2 linked regions of the Homo sapiens genome follow. The protein of the gene in region 2 interacts with the protein of the main gene of each other region in a biochemical or structural test. Each region holds a gene or a part of one and is shown on either strand. Other genes may lie near its edges. The genes, in order: ITGA2B and FGG.

Region 1 (8,944 bases), on a different chromosome or scaffold from region 2:
GGTCCTGCACCTCCCTGGCCTGTCCCTGCCTGTCCCTACCTGCTCCTGCACATGGGTGTCTCCATGCAGCACGACAGCAGGGGCCATTCCAGCCTCCGTGGGCGGTAGGGACACATTGAGGCTGAGCACAATGGGGCTCAGCTTGTCCCGGAAGTCTGCCTCATCCTAGGACAGGGGCAAGAGTCAGGCCATCTTGCTACCATACACATCCCACCTTCTCCTGGCCAGTAGGCACCGTGTCCTGACCACCCCCGGACTCACAGCACCCAGCTCAGTGCCCCAGGGCTAGATGAACAAGTCCAGTGGGTAAGTTCTACTCTCCCAGCCCTGCCAATCCCCTGCCTGGGCGTACTCGAAGGAAGGCCATGGTGGTGTGGCAGATGGGGCTGTGCTTTCCGCCCAGATCCAGGTTCAGGGTGGTGCCTGCCTGTTGAGAGCCCAGCAGCAGCACCCGCCGGCCCTGGCGGGGCTTCTGCCGGTCCAGCTGCAGCTCGGCATTTAGGGCTGGCAGGGCAAGCAGAAGAGTCAGGACCTCCCTGGCCAGCCTCCGGGGGAGTCCAAGCCCACCTCCCTCCTGCCCCCTTCATGCCACTCACATAGCTTCTGAGGAATGTTGTGCCCAGTGGCTCCAACACACATCTGGATGTTGAAGCTGCAAAGACGTAAGTGGGGCTCAGGGGTTGGAGCCTTTCTGAGGTCCCAGATCCTTTAAGGCCCATGCCCTCTGCCTCCTCACCAGCTCACGGGTGTCTTGGTCTGAGGTAGGACACAGCTCTTCACAGCAGGATTCAGTGAATCTTGCACCAGTAGCTGGACAGAGGCCTTCACCACTGGCTGAGCTCTGATGGGATAGGGTGATGGGGTAGGCTTGCCATTGTGGCTCCTCCTGGCCTGGCCTCCTCTTGATGGCACAGGACCTTCCCCATCCCGCCCCTGGAGCCAGTGCTCACCTGTACACAGCCACCTGGTTGGCCCCGTAAGCTCCCACGATCAGGTCTATAGACATCGAGGAATGGGTCAGAATTGGCGATTAGGGCATGGGATCCTCATCTCATCTTCCCAGGGGTTCCCCACACCACCTCCCCCACTGGAGGTTTCACCCAGCCCCTCTGGCAGTCCATAGTGGGACACCAGGCCAGGCATGAGCCCCTGGCCGTGTCTCTTGGCACTTCCAGCGAATGTCCAAGGGCCTTTCTTGGGCATTTCTAGCTGGAGGCAGTCCAGGGCACCTGGGTATCCGTTGTCATCGATGTCTACGGCACCTCGAAGGGAGAAGCCAAAGGCAGAGCCTGTGGGGAAGGGGCTGTCCAGGACCTGGGAGGGACGTGACCTCAGCCCCTCACTCTGACCCAGGAACACCAGCACTTGGCCCCGGCCACTGGGACCCCCGTAGGGGGCAGCCACTGCAATGTCTGGAAGGAGTAACAGAAAGGAAGTGGCTGATTGTTATTCAGCCTCCCTAGATGACTGTAAAACTTTCCTGAGCTTCTCTGGGAACATCCCAGGAGACTAGGAAAGGGGTGCAAAGTGTGGGTGAAGGAGGCACTGCCCTACCCTCCAGGAGTTAACAATCAGGTGGGAGAGGGACCTGCCAAGTAGGATTGTTATAAAAACAGTGACAACTCTCACTGTCTATTGAGGAAAATATATCCTGAAAATTAAGCATCATTATTCCCTTTTCTAAATTTTTTTTTTTTTGAGATGGAGTCTCGCTCTGTTGTCCTGGCTGGAGTGCAGTGGTGCGATCTCGGCTCACTGCAACCTCTGCCTCCCCCGTTAAAGTGATTCTTGTGCCTCAGCCTCTTCAGTAGCTGGGATTACAGGCGCCTACCACCATGCCCGGCTAATTTTTGTATTTTCAGTAGAGACGGGGTTTCACCACATTGGCCAGGCTGATCTCGAACTCCTGACCTCAAGTGATCTGCCCACCTTGGGCTCCCAAAGTGCTGGGATTACAGGTGTGAGCCACCGTGCCCAAGCCCCTTTTAAAATTTTTTTATTTTTAAGACAGTCTTGCACTGTCATTCAGGCTGAAGTGCAGTGGTGCAACCATGGCTTACTGCAGCCTCAACCTTCTGGACTAAAGCAATCCTCCCACCTCAGCTTCCCAAGCAGTTGAGACTATAGCCACCATGCCCAGCTAATTTTTAAAAATTTTTATGGAGACGAGATCTCCCTATGTTGGCCAGGCTGGTGTCAAACTCCTAGGCTCCAGTGATCCTCCTGCCTCGGCCTCCCAAAGTGCTGGGATTCCAGGTGTGAGCCACCGTGCCTGGCCATCTAGCATCTATTTCTAGCCTTCTCCATTCCATCAAACTCCCAGACCCCCCACACTTCCTTCAGCAGGTGACGTAATCTCTTACTTCAGGAAGAGAGGCAGCCCACTGTTATGCTATAATCCCACACCAACTTTCTTTTCCCTTTCCCCATTTGACCCTGGAAGAGGTTTCCTTCCTTCACCCTGACACTGGGCCAGTCACCCTCCCACCCCCTGAGGCATCACAGGGACTCTCTGCTGGCTCATCCCCCCATTTCCCCACAACATCATTTTCAACCTACTACATGTTCTTCCACATTGAAATAATCTTCCCTTGACCCTCATCTCTTTTCTGTGATCACCTTTTCTCTTTTTCCTCTTATAGTCAAACATGTTTTTTTTTTTCCTTTCTATTCCTCAAATTCCTTTTTACCACAAACCTGTTGAAAGAGCTGTCTACATTAGCTGCATCCAATTTTTCATCTCCATTCATACCTTACCCCATTGCATTCTGGCTTCTGACCCTATCTTGGCCTGAATCAATTTATGTCACTGTCACCAATAACCTCCCCTTCTTTTTTCTTTCTTCCTTTCTTTCTCTATTTTTTTTTTTATTTTGTTGAGATGGAGTCTTGCTCTGTCACCCAGGCTGGAGTGCAGTAGTGGCGCAAGCTCAGCTCAGTGCAACCTCCACTTCCCGGGTTCAAGAGATTCTCCTGCTTCAATTTCCCAAGTAGCTGGGATTACAGGTATGAGCCACCATGCCTGGCACCCTCTTCTTGCTAAAGCCCATGAATATTTCTCCAGCCCCACCTAATTGTATCTTGCAGCAGCAGCAGGAGCTGCAGCGCCCACTTCCTCCTGTGCATGCTCTTTAACGCATGCTCTTCCTTGAGTCCCGGGCCATCAGACCCCCTGGGTTCCCTCCTCCCTCTCTGGACACTCCTCTGTCTCCTTCTCAGACTTACCTCCTGTAGGAGTCACCTAAATGCTTTTGCTCCCTAGGGCTCTATCCTGGGCCTCTTATTTCACAGGTCCCGGGACCTCATCCACTTTCCCCAAACCCCTGTCTCCCATTCAGATCTCTCTTGTGGAAGCGGGGAGAGCCACTCCCAACTGTTCTTTGGATATTTCCGCCTAAAGCACCCAAGCCCTTCAAGCTCAACAGGTCCAGAGCTGAACTGCTGATCTCCCGCCTCTCCCCAGCACCTGCTGCACGGCCTGAGTTCCAGGCAGTGGAGGCCATCACAGGCACCCAACTCCAACCTCTCCCCTGGCCCCACATCCAGTCTCCCACCAAGTCCTAATAATCCGAGTCCTAAATATCTGTGAAGTCACTCCCATCTCTAACTCCACTGCCAAAATCCACATCCAGGTGGTCATTGTCTCTTGCTTGGATTAAGGCAAACACTTCCTAATTAGTCTTCAACTCTCCCATCTGCTCTCCACTCAGCACCCCATGTGTCTAAGCCACATACTTATATGCTTAAAACCCATCCTGGTTCTGGCTGCCCTCAGGCCAACTCCATGCTTTTTGAGTGGCTGTTAACCCCTCTGCAGCAAGTAGGGCTCCTCTCTTCCCTCACCATTGTAGCCATCCCGGTCGAGGTCGCCCAGGGGTGCGATGGCAGAGCCGAATCGCCCATAGAGCTGTGTGCCAGTCAGCAGGAGGCTGGGGGCACCCAGCGCGTGGGGGCCTCGCGGCTGCAGGAACAAATACACACGCCCCACTTCGGCCAGTTTTCGGTCTGCCCGGCTCTCCATATACAGTGGAGCGCCCACCAGCAGATCATGCCTCCTGTGGGCCAGATGAGTGGTTACATGGGACTGGACCAGGGGTATATTGGGGCTAGGGCCAAATCTCCTCGACCCTTGCTCTCCTGTTCCTCCAGTGGATACGTGAGACTAGGGCTAGGAAAGGGAGACAGAGGGCAGCTCTGGTAATTTGGGACCCAACTGGGTAGGGGTGGGGCATGTCCCTCCTCACCCATCCCCGTTGACGTCAGTGACAGCCACTGAATGCCCAAAATACGACGCCATCTGCAAGATGAGGAGCACCATCATTCACGCCGCTGGACAAGCATCCTCTTTAAGAAATGGGCCCTCACCTCCCATGAAATATTCTGAAGTCTCAGTTCCCCCTCCACCCAGCCACGCCCACTGGGACCTGGCCCCCACCTGCTCTCCGCGCAGCCGATGCAGCCTCTGGTAGTAGGAATCCAAAATTTCCACCTGCACGGACAGCGCAGGCGAGAGCATCATTCTTGTACCCAAAGCAACCTCCCACTCCAGGTGAGAAAGGGTGGTTTGGTGGAGGCGGGGCGGGGGTGGGGGGCGCTCAGGAGTTGTCAGCCTGAGAACTGGGATAAGGGGCTTCGGGAGGCCCAGTGGTGGGGGCACTTACCGCTCCCAGGGTCCAGCTCCAAGTGGGGGCACCGACGACATATTCTGGCGATAGGGAGAGCCAGGCTCAGGGAATGAGAGCCTTAGAACCTACCCACTTCCCGCTCCCCGTTCTGCACCCAGGGAAAAATGTGTGTGCAGGAAGATTTCCCTACATAGGGGAGATTTCAGGAAGGCGCTCCTCCCCGGGCTGGGCTACCCAACTCCCGCCCTAAGTGGATTTCTTGCCTGTAGTGTTGAGATCCCCGTCGAACTCGCCCACGGCCACCGAGTACCCTGAGGACAAGGGCGCAAATTAGTCTTTTCCAGGGGAGGAAGCACAGAGGGGACGGAGGGCAAAGAAGGAGGAGATTAAGGCCACTCAGCCCCAGCCCTGCATTGTGCAGATGGAAAAACGGAGGCCTTCGAGGGGCCAAGCCCTGCCCCAGGCTGCGCTACGAGTCCGCAGTGGAAGGGAGCGGTGGGCGCATGGGAGGTGGGCGGTCTGCGGGGAAGCCGCAGGAGCGGAGGGCGGGAGCGGCTTAGGCGGTGGGTTGGCCGGCAGGGGTGGCCATGGAGGCTCCCACAGGGGCAGGACCTGACCGTCTGCGGTGGGCGGTGACCCTCGGGGTGCTGGAAGTCTGGAATGGCGGTGTTACCCCAGTAGCCGTCGAAGTACTCTGGGTTGCTGGAGTCAAAGGAGAGGCTCTGGGAGGACACGTGCCACAAAAGGATGCCTGGGCGGTAACTCGAGAAAATATCCGCAACTGGAGCCTGGGCCAGGAGACCTAGGGCGGGAGGGACAGCGGGTGTGAAGCCCAAAGCGGTCTCCTTGGGCCGCGAGAAGGGAGGGAGGTGTACGGATGGGCACGTACCTAAGAAATAATAGCCGCCAGGAGCCCCAAGCACCAGCTCTCCGGCCTGGAAGGGAAGTCCTGAGGGTGAGAGGGGGCCCTGTTTGGGAGCCGCCCCCACTGCGCTTTTGCTCCCTACTCGCCTGAGTGACCACGGAGCTGAAGCCCGCTTCACAGTAACGCTTGTCCCAGCCTGCAGGAGACAAGGAGGAGGGGTCAGCGCAGGGGTGAAGGGAGGCGCGCGCGAGCCCGGAGGAGGGCTGGGGGACAGGGGCGGGGCCTTGAGTCGGCGGGGCCCTGGGGCGAGGCCAGATCCAAAGCAAGGGCTGCGGCGCTGGGGGCGGGATCCGATGGGGGCGGGGCCAAGCCGTCGCGAGTGGGCGGGGCCAGGTCGTAGCTGGCGCTTACTAAAATCATTTTCCACGTAAATGCGGCTCAGGGTGTTCCCGCGACAGGGGGAGTACTCGGCGCGGCGGCCGCTCTCTGGCTGAGCCAAAAAGCAGCTACCTACGGGCGTCTTCTCAGCCTCCTCAGTCTTTTCTAGGACGTTCCAGTGCTGCCAGGGGGCGCAGGCCTGGAGAAAGGCCACAGGAGTGGGGACGGGCGCGAGACTTGGGCTCCTCCTGGCCCCAGGTGTCCCTGCCCCCGATTGTTCCCTGTGCCCTGTACCGCGGGGCCCACCACAATGACGTCGCTCCAGCTGACGACCGACGCCCCCAGTCCTTGGCGGGCCTTGAAGGTTTGTAAAGTTTGGGAGCCTACATTTCGGGTCTCATCACCTGGAAGGCACAAGAAGGGGTGGGGCGCTGAAGCCCGGCAGTCCACGTCCCTCTGACCCCAACCTTGCTCTCCTTGCCTGGGACTCACGGAGGTCAAAGAGCAGCGAGGGGCACTGGCCGCCCTCGGCCCTCCAGGGGCACAGGAACACGCCGCCCGTCTCCTCCTGGCTGGGGCCCAGGGTCCGCGGGGCGCCCACCACGATGGCCACTCTGCATAGGAAAGCTGGGTGAGCGCCGCGCAGATTCCAGCGTATCCCAGGCCCTGGCGCCGGCGCTGGGAGCACTGCCCGGAAGGCCATGTGGCATGGGGGCACTGGACCATCTTTCCTCAATGACACCTCACAGACCACCGTGATGTACTTCTTCATCTTATGGACAGTGAAACCGACTCTCAGCGAGGGCAATCACGTGGCTAAAGTAACCCAGTGAGTTGAGAGTAGAGCTGGGACTATAACCATTTGGTTTGATTTGAACACCAGGGGTTTGAGATCTTTGCTGAAAAAGACCTAAACTCTGTACAACACCTCCATCCTTCCACCCGCAACAAGAACCAGCGGTTCACATGCTCCCTGGAATGCCTGCCTAGACTGTTACCAGATCCCCTCTTGAGAGCTGGTTTTAATGAGGGAAGGTAGCGGGTACCTCTAAAGTGGGGCTGGAGTGTGTGTGCTGATAGGAGGACCCTAGCAGATCTAGGTTTAAATCACAATTCTGCCATATGTGAAATAGGAATACCAATTTCATAACCAATGACTGGTTTTCACAACCAGTCAATGCTGTCAGGAGTAAATGTAATAAATACGAGTAACGGTTAGCATGGTCCCAGCCAAATACATAACAAACGCTCTTGAAACAATGCTATAATTTTAAAAAATAATTTTGTTGTTTTGAGACAGGGTCTCATTCTGTTGCCCAGCTGGAGTGCAGCAGCATGATCACAGCTCACTGTAGCCTTGATCTCCAGGGCTCAAGCAATCCTCTCCCCTCAGCCACCCTAGTAGCTGGGACTGCGGGTGTGCAACACCATGCCTGGCTAATTAAAAAAAATTTTTTTATAGGCTGGGCATGGTGGCTCACACCTGTAATCCCAGCACTTTGGGAGGCCAAGGGATTACAGGCGTGAGCCTCTGTGTCTGGCCCATAATATTTTTTTAGCCTGCAGGATGTTTAAGTAGTGCCAATGGGATCACTACTTATAGGAGGGGAAATCAGCAGGAGTGGGCACAGGAAGGAGTTGAGCTGATTCAGGCCCAATGACAGCATTCGCCAACACCCCACGAGCTTTGGAACTAGAATGACCCTTCAAAATTGTCAGAGTTGGCCGGGTGTGGTGGCTCACGCCTGTAATCCCAGTACTTTGGGAGGCCGAGGCAGGCTGATCACCTGAGGTCAGGAGTTTGAGACCAGCCTGGCCAACATAGTGAAACCCTGTCTCTACTAAAAATACAAAAATTAGCCGGGCATGGTGGCATGCACCTGTAATCCCAGCTACTCGGGAGGCTGAGACAGGAGAATCGTTTGAACCCAGGAGGCAGAGGTTGCAGTGAGCCGAGATCACCCCATTGCACTCCAGCCTGGGCAACGAGAGCGAAACTCCATCTCAAAAAAAAAGAAGAAAAAAAGTCTGGGCATGGTGGCTGAAGCCTGTAATCCCAGCACTTTGGGAGGCCAAGGCGGGTGGATCACCTGAAGTTGGGAGTTCGAGACCACCCTGACCAACATGGAGAAACCTCGTCTCTACTAAAAATACAAAATTAGCCGGGTGTGGTGGCACATGCCTGTAATCCCAGCTACGCGGGAGGCTGTGGCAGGAGAATCGCTTGAACCCGGGAGGCAGAAGTTGCGGTGAGCCAGTGATTGTGCCATTGCACTCCAGCCTGGGCAACAAGAGCGAAACCCCATCTCAAAAAAAAAAAAAAAAAAAAAAAAAAAAGAAGAAGAAGAAAAAAAGAATTGTCAGAGTTGATGAAAGAGGGCTGGACCCTTATCAAATGCCTCCCCCACACCTGCCTCCACTCTCCCCACTCACCCACTTCTCATTGATCAGACACTGGATGTGGGCCATCTTGGGAGGGGACTTGGAGTGAACTGGCTCTCTTCAGCAGAGGAAATCCCCTAAGTGGCTGACACTTGAAGGCTATCTGCCATTGCCACCCATTGCCACTCCCTGAAGCTGGTGGGCACAGTGTCTCTCACAATAGTAGCTCAGGGTACACGCTATGAAGAGGAGGAGCCAAGACTCTAATCTTGGCACTCTTGATTCTGAAGCCTGATCAATACTAATCATTAATGACCTATTGCTTCTTTTCAAATATTTATAATGTTGATGGAGATGAGGGAAATGGAACAGAAATGCAAGGTGCGGGAGGGTAGACAACTTTAGTTCTGCAAATCAATTTAGGACATGTGCTCCTCTCCACATTTCCTTTCTTTTTTTTTTTTTTTTTTTTTTGAGACAGAGTTTCGCTCTCGTTGCCCAGGCTGGAGTGCAATGGCATGATCTCGGCTCACCACAACCTCTGCCTCTCAGGTTCAAACGATTCTCCTGCCTCAGCCTCCCGAGTAGCTGGGATTACAAGCATGCGGCACCACGCCCGGCTAATTTTTTTTTTTTTGAGACGGAGTGTCACTCTGTCACCCAGGCTGGAGTGCAGTGGCATGATCTCAGCTCA
Region 2 (12,112 bases):
AGAAAATAAAGACTACTGACCAAAAAATAATAATAATAATCTGTGAAGTTCTTTTGCTGTTGTTTTAGTTGTTCTATTTGCTTAAGGATTTTTATGTCTCTGATCCTATATTACAGATATGATAGACGCTGCTACTTTGAAGTCCAGGAAAATGTTAGAAGAAATTATGAAATATGAAGCATCGATTTTAACACATGACTCAAGTATTCGGTAAGGATTTTTGTTTTAATTTGCTCTGCAAGACTGATTTAGTTTTTATTTAATATTCTATACTTGAGTGAAAGTAATTTTTAATGTGTTTTCCCCATTTATAATATCCCAGTGACATTATGCCTGATTATGTTGAGCATAGTAGAGATAGAAGTTTTTAGTGCAATATAAATTATACTGGGTTATAATTGCTTATTAATAATCACATTGAAGAAAGATGTTCTAGATGTCTTCAAATGCTAGTTTGACCATATTTATCAAAAATTTTTTCCCCATCCCCCATTTATCTTACAACATAAAATCAATCTCATAGGAATTTGGGTGTTGAAAATAAAATCCTCTTTATAAAAATGCTGACAAATTGGTGGTTAAAAAAATTAGCAAGCAGAGGCATAGTAAGGATTTTGGCTCCTAAAGTAAATTATATTGAATGTGGAGCAGGAAGAAACATGTCTTGAGAGACTAAGTGTGGCAAATATTGCAAAGCTCATATTGATCATTGCAGAATGAACCTGCATAGTCTCTTCCCTTCATTTGGAAGTGAATGTCTCTGTTAAAGCTTCTCAGGGACTCATAAACTTTCTGAACATAAGGTCTCAGATACAGTTTTAATATTTTTCCCCAATTTTTTTTTCTGAATTTTTCTCAAAGCAGCTTGAGAAATTGAGATAAATAGTAGCTAGGGAGAAGTGGCCCAGGAAAGATTTCTCCTCTTTTTGCTATCAGAGGGCCCTTGTTATTATTGTTATTATTATTACTTGCATTATTATTGTCCATCATTGAAGTTGAAGGAGGTTATTGTACAGAAATTGCCTAAGACAAGGTAGAGGGAAAACGTGGACAAATAGTTTGTCTACCCTTTTTTACTTCAAAGAAAGAACGGTTTATGCATTGTAGACAGTTTTCTATCATTTTTGGATATTTGCAAGCCACCCTGTAAGTAACTACAAAAGGAGGGTTTTTACTTCCCCCAGTCCATTCCCAAAGCTATGTAACCAGAAGCATTAAAGAAGAAAGGGGAAGTATCTGTTGTTTTATTTTACATACAATAACGTTCCAGATCATGTCCCTGTGTAAGTTATATTTTAGATTGAAGCTTATATGTATAGCCTCAGTAGATCCACAAGTGAAAGGTATACTCCTTCAGCACATGTGAATTACTGAACTGAGCTTTTCCTGCTTCTAAAGCATCAGGGGGTGTTCCTATTAACCAGTCCCGCCACTCTTGCAGGTTGCTATCTGCTGTCCCTTATGCATAAAGTAAAAAGCAAAATGTCAATGACATTTGCTTATTGACAAGGACTTTGTTATTTGTGTTGGGAGTTGAGACAATATGCCCCATTCTAAGTAAAAAGATTCAGGTCCACATTGTATTCCTGTTTTAATTGATTTTTTGATTTGTTTTTCTTTTTCAAAAAGTTTATAATTTTAATTCATGTTAATTTAGTAATATAATTTTACATTTTCCTCAAGAATGGAATAATTTATCAGAAAGCACTTCTTAAGAAAATACTTAGCAGTTTCCAAAGAAAATATAAAATTACTCTTCTGAAAGGAATACTTATTTTTGTCTTCTTATTTTTGTTATCTTATGTTTCTGTTTGTAGATATTTGCAGGAAATATATAATTCAAATAATCAAAAGATTGTTAACCTGAAAGAGAAGGTAGCCCAGCTTGAAGCACAGTGCCAGGAACCTTGCAAAGACACGGTGCAAATCCATGATATCACTGGGAAAGGTAACTGATGAAGGTTATATTGGGATTAGGTTCATCAAAGTAAGTAATGTAAAGGAGAAAGTATGTACTGGAAAGTATAGGAATAGTTTAGAAAGTGGCTACCCATTAAGTCTAAGAATTTCAGTTGTCTAGACCTTTCTTGAATAGCTAAAAAAAACAGTTTAAAAGGAATGCTGATGTGAAAAGTAAGAAAATTATTCTTGGAAAATGAATAGTTTACTACATGTTAAAAGCTATTTTTCAAGGCTGGCACAGTCTTACCTGCATTTCAAACCACAGTAAAAGTCGATTCTCCTTCTCTAGATTGTCAAGACATTGCCAATAAGGGAGCTAAACAGAGCGGGCTTTACTTTATTAAACCTCTGAAAGCTAACCAGCAATTCTTAGTCTACTGTGAAATCGATGGGTCTGGAAATGGATGGACTGTGTTTCAGAAGGTAATTTTTTCCCCACCATGTGTATTTAATAAATTCCTACATTGTTTCTGCCATATGGCAGATACTTTTCTAAGCACCTTGTGAACCGTAGCTCATTTAATCCTTGCAATAGCCCTAAGAGGAAGGTACTTCTGTTACTCCTATTTACAGAAAAGGAAACTGAGGCACACAAGGTTAAATAACTTGCCCAAGACCACATAACTAATAAGCAACAGAGTCAGCATTTGAACCTAGGCAGTATAGTTTCAGAGTTTGTGACTTGACTCTATATTGTACTGGCACTGACTTTGTAGATTCATGGTGGCACATAATCATAGTACCACAGTGACAAATAAAAAGAAGGAAACTCTTTTGTCAGGTAGGTCAAGACCTGAGGTTTCCCATCACAAGATGAGGAAGCCCAACACCACCCCCCACCACCCCACCACCATCACCACCCTTTCACACACCAGAGGATACACTTGGGCTGCTCCAAGACAAGGAACCTGTGTTGCATCTGCCACTTGCTGATACCCACTAGGAATCTTGGCTCCTTTACTTTCTGTTTACCTCCCACCACTGTTATAACTGTTTCTACAGGGGGCGCTCAGAGGGAATGAATGGTGGAAGCATTAGTTGCCAGACACCGATTGAGCAATGGGTTCCATCATAAGTGTAAGAATCAGTAATATCCAGCTAGAGTTCTGAAGTCGTCTAGGTGTCTTTTTAATATTACCACTCATTTAGAATTTATGATGTGCCAGAAACCCTCTTAAGTATTTCTCTTATATTCTCTCTCATGATCCTTGCAGCAACCCTAAGAAGTAACCATCATTTTTCCTATTTGATACATGAGGAAACTGAGGTAGCTTGGCCAAGATCACTTAGTTGGGAGTTGATAGAACCAGTGCTCTGTATTTTTGACAAAATGTTGACAGCATTCTCTTTACATGCATTGATAGTCTATTTTCTCCTTTTGCTCTTGCAAATGTGTAATTAGAGACTTGATGGCAGTGTAGATTTCAAGAAAAACTGGATTCAATATAAAGAAGGATTTGGACATCTGTCTCCTACTGGCACAACAGAATTTTGGCTGGGAAATGAGAAGATTCATTTGATAAGCACACAGTCTGCCATCCCATATGCATTAAGAGTGGAACTGGAAGACTGGAATGGCAGAACCAGGTACTGTTTTGAAATGACTTCCAACTTTTTATTGTAAAGATTGCCTGGAATGTGCACTTTCCAACTATCAATAGACAATGGCAAATGCAGCCTGACAAATGCAAACAGCACATCCAGCCACCATTTTCTCCAGGAGTCTGTTTGGTTCTTGGGCAATCCAAAAAGGTAAATTCTATTCAGGATGAATCTAAGTGTATTGGTACAATCTAATTACCCTGGAACCATTCAGAGTAATAGCTAATTACTGAACTTTTAATCAGTCCCAGGAATTGAGCATAAAATTATAATTTTATCTAGTCTAAATTACTATTTCATGAAGCAGGTATTATTATTAATCCCATTTTATAGATTAACTTGCTCAAAGTCACATTGCTGATAAGTGGTAGAGGTAGAATTCAGACTCAAGTAGTTTAACTTTAGAGCCTGTCCTCTTAACAACTATCCTGGTTGAAAAGCAAATACAGCCTCTTCAGACTTCTCAGTGCCTTGATGGCCATTTATTCTGTCAAATCATGAGCTACCCTAAAAGTAAACCAGCTAGCTCTTTTGATGATCTAGAGGCTTCTTTTTGCTTGAGATATTTGAAGGTTTTAAGCATTGTTACCTAATTAAAATGCAGAAAAATATCCAACCCTCTTGTTATGTATAAGGAATAGTGAAATATATTGTCTTCAAACACATGGACTTTTTTTTATTGCTTGGTTGGTTTTTAATCCAGAAAGTGCTATAGTCAGTAGACCTTCTTCTAGGAAAGGACCTTCCATTTCCCAGCCACTGGAGATTAGAAAATAAGCTAAATATTTTCTGGAAATTTCTGTTCATTCATTAAGGCCCATCCTTTCCCCCACTCTATAGAAGTGTTGTCCACTTGCACAATTTTTTCCAGGAAAGAATCTCTCTAACTCCTTCAGCTCACATGCTTTGGACCACACAGGGAAGACTTTGATTGTGTAATGCCCTCAGAAGCTCTCCTTCTTGCCACTACCACACTGATTTGAGGAAGAAAATCCCTTTAGCACCTAACCCTTCAGGTGCTATGAGTGGCTAATGGAACTGTACCTCCTTCAAGTTTTGTGCAATAATTAAGGGTCACTCACTGTCAGATACTTTCTGTGATCTATGATAATGTGTGTGCAACACATAACATTTCAATAAAAGTAGAAAATATGAAATTAGAGTCATCTACACATCTGGATTTGATCTTAGAATGAAACAAGCAAAAAAGCATCCAAGTGAGTGCAATTATTAGTTTTCAGAGATGCTTCAAAGGCTTCTAGGCCCATCCCGGGAAGTGTTAATGAGCTGTGGACTGGTTCACATATCTATTGCCTCTTGCCAGATTTGCAAAAAACTTCACTCAATGAGCAAATTTCAGCCTTAAGAAACAAAGTCAAAAATTCCAAGGAAGCATCCTACGAAAGAGGGAACTTCTGAGATCCCTGAGGAGGGTCAGCATGTGATGGTTGTATTTCCTTCTTCTCAGTACTGCAGACTATGCCATGTTCAAGGTGGGACCTGAAGCTGACAAGTACCGCCTAACATATGCCTACTTCGCTGGTGGGGATGCTGGAGATGCCTTTGATGGCTTTGATTTTGGCGATGATCCTAGTGACAAGTTTTTCACATCCCATAATGGCATGCAGTTCAGTACCTGGGACAATGACAATGATAAGTTTGAAGGCAACTGTGCTGAACAGGATGGATCTGGTTGGTGGATGAACAAGTGTCACGCTGGCCATCTCAATGGAGTTTATTACCAAGGTATGTTTTCCTTTCTTAGATTCCAAGTTAATGTATAGTGTATACTATTTTCATAAAAAATAATAAATAGATATGAAGAAATGAAGAATAATTTATAAAGATAGTAGGGATTTTATCATGTTCTTTATTTCAACTAAGTTCTTTGAAACTGGAAGTGGATAATACCAAGTTCATGCCTAAAATTAGCCCTTCTAAAGAAATCCACCTGCTGCAAAATATCCAGTAGTTTGGCATTATATGTGAAACTATCACCATCATAGCTGGCACTGTGGGTTGTGGGATCTCCTTTAGACATACAACATAAATGATCTGGATGGATTAACATTACTACATGGATGCTTGTTGACACATTAACCTGGCTTCCCATGAGCTTTGTGTCAGATACACGCAGTGAACAGGTGTTTGGAGGAACAGAATAAAGAGAAGGCAAGCACTGGTAAGGGCAGGGGTTTGTGAAAGCTTGAGAGAAGAGACCAGTCTGAGGACAGTAGACACTTATTTTAGGATGGGGGTTGGATGAGGAGGCTATAGTTTGCTATAAGCTTGGAATGGTTTGGAACACTGGTTTCACTCACCTACCCAGCAGTTATGTGTGGGGAAGCCTTACCGATGCTAAAGGATCCATGTTACAATAATGGCATTATTTGGAAATCCCAGTGGTATTCCATGAATAAAACCACTATGAAGATAATCCCACTCAACAGACTCTCCGTTGGAGAAGGACAGCAACACCACCCTGGGAAAGCCAAACAGTCAGACCAGACCTGTTTAGCATCAGTAGGACTTCCCTACCATATCTGCTGGGTAGATGAGTGAAACCAGTGTTCCAAACCACTCCGGGCTTGTAGCAAACCATAGTCTCCTCATCTACCAAGATGAGCAACCTTACCTCCTGATGTCCTAGCCAATCACCAACTAGGAAACTTTGCACAGTTTATTTAAAGTAACAGTTTGATTTTCACAATATTTTTAAATTGGAGAAACATAACTTATCTTTGCACTCACAAACCACATAATGAGAAGAAACTCTAAGGGAAAATGCTTGATCTGTGTGACCCGGGGCGCCATGCCAGAGCTGTAGTTCATGCCAGTGTTGTGCTCTGACAAGCCTTTTACAGAATTACATGAGATCTGCTTCCCTAGGACAAGGAGAAGGCAAATCAACAGAGGCTGCACTTTAAAATGGAGACATAAAATAACATGCCAGAACCATTTCCTAAAGCTCCTCAATCAACCAACAAAATTGTGCTTTCAAATAACCTGAGTTGACCTCATCAGGAATTTTGTGGCTCCTTCTCTTCTAACCTGCCTGAAGAAAGATGGTCCACAGCAGCTGAGTCCGGGATGGATAAGCTTAGGGACAGAGGCCAATTAGGGAACTTTGGGTTTCTAGCCCTACTAGTAGTGAATAAATTTAAAGTGTGGATGTGACTATGAGTCACAGCACAGATGTTGTTTAATAATATGTTTATTTTATAAATTGATATTTTAGGAATCTTTGGAGATATTTTCAGTTAGCAGATAATACTATAAATTTTATGTAACTGGCAATGCACTTCGTAATAGACAGCTCTTCATAGACTTGCAGAGGTAAAAAGATTCCAGAATAATGATATGTACATCTACGACTTGTTTTAGGTGGCACTTACTCAAAAGCATCTACTCCTAATGGTTATGATAATGGCATTATTTGGGCCACTTGGAAAACCCGGTGGTATTCCATGAAGAAAACCACTATGAAGATAATCCCATTCAACAGACTCACAATTGGAGAAGGACAGCAACACCACCTGGGGGGAGCCAAACAGGTCAGACCAGAGCACCCTGCGGAAACAGAATATGACTCACTTTACCCTGAGGATGATTTGTAGAAAATTAACTGCTAACTTCTATTGACCCACAAAGTTTCAGAAATTCTCTGAAAGTTTCTTCCTTTTTTCTCTTACTATATTTATTGATTTCAAGTCTTCTATTAAGGACATTTAGCCTTCAATGGAAATTAAAACTCATTTAGGACTGTATTTCCAAATTACTGATATCAGAGTTATTTAAAAATTGTTTATTTGAGGAGATAACATTTCAACTTTGTTCCTAAATATATAATAATAAAATGATTGACTTTATTTGCATTTTTATGACCACTTGTCATTTATTTTGTCTTCGTAAATTATTTTCATTATATCAAATATTTTAGTATGTACTTAATAAAATAGGAGAACATTTTAGAGTTTCAAATTCCCAGGTATTTTCCTTGTTTATTACCCCTAAATCATTCCTATTTAATTCTTCTTTTTAAATGGAGAAAATTATGTCTTTTTAATATGGTTTTTGTTTTGTTATATATTCACAGGCTGGAGACGTTTAAAAGACCGTTTCAAAAGAGATTTACTTTTTTAAAGGACTTTATCTGAACAGAGAGATATAATATTTTTCCTATTGGACAATGGACTTGCAAAGCTTCACTTCATTTTAAGAGCAAAAGACCCCATGTTGAAAACTCCATAACAGTTTTATGCTGATGATAATTTATCTACATGCATTTCAATAAACCTTTTGTTTCCTAAGACTAGATACATGGTACCTTTATTGACCATTAAAAACCACCACTTTTTGCCAATTTACCAATTACAATTGGGCAACCATCAGTAGTAATTGAGTCCTCATTTTATGCTAAATGTTATGCCTAACTCTTTGGGAGTTACAAAGGAAATAGCAATTATGGCTTTTGCCCTCTAGGAGATACAGGACAAATACAGGAAAATACAGCAACCCAAACTGACAATACTCTATACAAGAACATAATCACTAAGCAGGAGTCACAGCCACACAACCAAGATGCATAGTATCCAAAGTGCAGCTGGAGACAGGAAAGCTGCTTGGGGAGTCTCCCAGCAGAACCTTTTAGCTCCAAACACCTGTGGTGGGACCTGGTCACTCTGAAAGGACTGCAACTCAGAGCAGAGAGCTTTAGGGAGCTATTTGCCCTATCTCTCACTAGTCATGAGGTGAGCTGAATGGAACCATCTCTTCCTTCTGATTCAGGGATATTGACTTTTTAGCAGCCTGAGTTCAGGTTCATTCGCCAACTTTCTAAGGAATAGCTAAATCTACATAACTTAGCAAAAGGCTGACTGTGGGAAGTAATTGGCTAATTTTATGAGGTGGGTCTGGTTGTTCCGAAGTCCTGAGCTTTGGCTTTGCACTCTCTTTCTTTTCACACTTCTTTCTTTCTTCTTGCCTTTCCTTTTTTTTTTTGGATATAGGGTCTCACTCTGTCACCCAGTCTGTAATGCAGTGGCACAACAGTAGCTCACTGCAGCCAGCCTTGAACTCCTGGGCTCAAGTGATCCTCCTTCCTCAGCCTCCCGAGTAGCTGTGACTACAGGAGTGCACCATCACACCTGCCTAATTTTTCTTTAATTTTTATTTTTGTAGAGAAAGAGTCTCACTGTGTTGCCCAGGCTGGTCTCAAATGCCTGGCCTCAAGGGATCCTCCTGCCTCGGCCTCCAAAAGTGCTGGGATTACAGGCATGAGCTACCATGCCAGGCCCACAATTTCCTTCTTAATCTTTTCACTTTCTTGTTATCAGGAGTGCTGAATTTAAGATATCCTATTGAAGAGATAAAAACAGTAAGTCAGCTTCTAGATATACAACCGAAGACGTGGGAGGCTTTGGAAAATAGAAACATTGATTCATTGTTTGCAGCCTTCATATATACATGTATGCATGAAGCACTTATTCAATTAACATTTATTGAATGCCTTCCTTGTGGTAGCCATTGTGTTGGATTTGGGGATATAGTACATGGTATGCTTAGTGTTCTCCACTCTCCCAAACCTGTTCTACTCCATCCAGTCCTCAAATGCAAAAAAAACAGTGACTCATCCTCCAATCTTCCTCCCCATATCCAATTTCTACCTCCCTATATCCAATTACTCATCAAGCCTGCTGAATTCACCTCCTATATATTTATCATATTCACTTTTTTCCTGTATACCGATTGTCACCTTTGTAGTTGAGATACATCTCTTGCCAGGATAAGGGCAATCACCCACTTCCTGTTCCCTTTCTTACATCCAGCCTCTCCTGCTACCATCTCATCCTCCTCCAAACCACTTCTAAAGCCAGAATGCATACAGTTTACCCTTTGTGAACCTATAAAATCCTTTGTGTGAGCAATCTGGTCATAGCTACAAAGAGATATACAATATTCATGAGTTTTCATGCAATATCACTCTAGTGATTTATCCCAAGAAAATCATTTTTAAAAAAGAAAATAGTTATATACAGAAATAAAAATATAGATGTAAATTTCATATTAGTAGGAAATTAAGAAAATATTTAACAGTGGAAGAATGGACAAGCAAGATAGCTTATTAGTAAATAAAATAGAATATAAGGATTATATAAGCACAATAGCTTTTTATGAATATGGAAATATTTACAAAATAAGTGAAATTTTAAGATGTAAGAATAATTCTAAAATAAAAATTATGTAAAGTTGTATATACATATACTTCATGAACAAAATATAATCTTGACATATATCCTTATTTGTACATACTCGTTCTCCTGTCAACCAATCCACAATATATAATTACATGAAAATTCTAAAACATGGCTGGACATGATGGCTCACACTTGTAATCTCAGCACTTGGGAGGCCAAGGTGGGAAGATCACTTGAGCCCAGGAGTTTGAGACCAGCCTGGGCGAAATGGTAAAACCGTCTCCATAAAAAATACCAAAAAATGTTAGCCAGGCATGGTGGTGCACACCCGTAGTCATAGCTACCAGGAAAACTGAGGTGGGAGGATCACTTGAGCCTGGGGAATTGAGCCTGCAGTGAGCCGTGATTGTGCTGCTGCACTCCAACCTGGGCAACAGAGTGAGTGAGACCTTGTCTCAAAAACAAAAAAATACTAAAACACAAAATAAATATAAGGAAGTCTAAAGATTCCTGATGTCTCCCATTATCACTTGTCCAATTCTTCTTCTGAAATATCAAATATAGCATTCTTTCAAAAACATTTAGGAGTCTCCTGATTTTTGTAGGTATCCTGAGTACAAGCTTGATCTGCATGTTGAATAATCCAGCATTCATTGGTAGAAAGAGGCTACTAACTTTTTCTTTAGATATCTCTGCATTGTTTGGCTTGTTATAACGAGTACATATTAATTTTGTGGTTCACTTTGCAACCCAGTGAGGCAGAGACAAAAAAAAGAATTTCAAAATTCTACTTGTTTAGTTATTAATATCCAGCGGTGAGCACTGAAAGCCTACAGTAAGAACTAAAGCATGAAAAACCCTTCTAGACTCAGTTGCATCATGTCTCCTCAAATAAAGTGGCAATTGAAAGGGTTATGTTGAGAAATCAACCAAAAAAACCTTTTAAGTGAAAAAAAGAGTTTGGGGTCTCCCAGAGACAGATTATATATTTTTTTCACAGCTCAAATCACAGGTGACTATTGCTAAGCCCTCCTCTTTATTTTCCCGGACACAGAAAAACTCTAGTCACTGAAAAGTAGTGAGGCGAAGTGCAAAGCAGATGTGTAGTGTCTTACACCGTGACAAACCTATGGAGGGAAGCATCTACAAAGGAAGAGATCAGGTGTAGTGATACTGTGACTTTAAACCATACAACTACAGAGCAGAGTTCTTGAATCAACAGAGAGGGTGATGACTTCCTGACCAAATACCAAGATTTTAAAATATACCTGTGAAGATTCTGTTTCATACCTGTGGGTGGGTTGAAAGTGAGCGAGAAATGAAAAAATAAATGTATGGACAGCATAGTTGAAATCTTTCCAAGATCCAAAATTCTTTTGCTCTGATTCTAATTAGTATAAACTAGCCAAGGTATTTATAATAGATACCTTCAGTTTATTCAGATGAAAAGGGTGAAAACAAAATACACATTTAACCCTGTGGGAAATATGTGTACCCGTTGATTTCTTATCACTTTGATGTAGCTCAAAGAGGGAGAAAAAGTTAAAGATAGTAAGATGAGTCAAAGTGGATGGAAAATAATAAGCTGCTTTGGGAGGCCGAGGCGGGCAGATCATGAAGTCAAGAGATCGAGACCATCCTGGCCAACATGGTGAAACCCCGTCTCTACTAAAAATACCAAAAAATTAGCCGGGCGTGGTGGTGCACACCTGTAGTCCCAGCTACTTGGGAGGCTGAGGCAAGAGAATCACTTGAACCCAGGAGGCGAAGGTTGCAGTGAGCCAAGATCACACTCCAGCCTGGGCAACAGAGGGACACTCCATCTCAAAATAAATAAATAAATAAGTTGGTGAAAGAGACCAAGAGTGTGGGAAAGACTACGTTTCATTTATCTCTTTGTGTTTGTGCATGTGTGTGTGTGTGTGTGTGTGCGTGTATGCGTGCAGAGACAGAAGTTGTTACCACACTCCCAGTACATCATTCTCATTGCTCTGTTGATTGATTGATTCTCATTTATTCACATTTCCTTTTTGTTCCATCTTCCCCTTAATAAACAATCACCTTAATAGGTTTGATATTTGTTTCTTTATTTGTATGCATTCTTATAAATCATGGTTTTTTTGTGTGTGTATGTATTTTTAAATTATGCAAATGACATTATGCTATAAGTTAGTGTTACTTAGAATACTGGTCCCGAAACTTCTGTTACTTTTCTGCACTAAGTACAAAAATTGAGAATTAGCAGGGAGAAACTTTTTCCTATGTTATATTTGTTCTGATATACTTACTGAGATAGAATTTTATATCTTTCAAATCTCATAATAAAAATATGGGCCTATATTTTGAATATC

What was found.
Region 1: the proteins of FGG (region 2) and ITGA2B interact in a test that uses a peptide from one of them, tested with the Homo sapiens proteins (one study listed by BioGRID).

The regions. Positions count from the first base shown.
Region 1 is NC_000017.11:44,379,650-44,388,593, forward strand, and holds part of ITGA2B (integrin alpha-IIb preproprotein), read right to left. Parts: intron 6,483-8,944; coding exon 6,361-6,482; intron 6,273-6,360; coding exon 6,175-6,272; intron 6,068-6,174; coding exon 5,902-6,067; intron 5,687-5,901; coding exon 5,637-5,686; intron 5,561-5,636; coding exon 5,515-5,560; intron 5,428-5,514; coding exon 5,299-5,427; intron 4,937-5,298; coding exon 4,889-4,936; intron 4,706-4,888; coding exon 4,662-4,705; intron 4,490-4,661; coding exon 4,436-4,489; intron 4,298-4,435; coding exon 4,245-4,297; intron 4,056-4,244; coding exon 3,844-4,055; intron 1,413-3,843; coding exon 1,230-1,412; intron 997-1,229; coding exon 951-996; intron 842-950; coding exon 737-841; intron 653-736; coding exon 597-652; intron 505-596; coding exon 353-504; intron 166-352; coding exon 40-165; intron 1-39. UniProt on the Homo sapiens protein: Integrin alpha-IIb/beta-3 is a receptor for fibronectin, fibrinogen, plasminogen, prothrombin, thrombospondin and vitronectin. It recognizes the sequence R-G-D in a wide array of ligands.
Region 2 is NC_000004.12:154,599,903-154,612,014, reverse strand, and holds the end of FGG (fibrinogen gamma chain isoform gamma-B precursor), read left to right. Parts: intron 1-116; coding exon 117-210; intron 211-1,817; coding exon 1,818-1,948; intron 1,949-2,251; coding exon 2,252-2,385; intron 2,386-3,364; coding exon 3,365-3,549; intron 3,550-5,032; coding exon 5,033-5,310; intron 5,311-6,948; coding exon 6,949-7,181; 3' UTR 7,182-7,660; coding exon of another isoform or gene 7,661-7,675; 3' UTR 7,676-7,844; downstream 7,845-12,112. UniProt on the Homo sapiens protein: Together with fibrinogen alpha (FGA) and fibrinogen beta (FGB), polymerizes to form an insoluble fibrin matrix. Has a major function in hemostasis as one of the primary components of blood clots.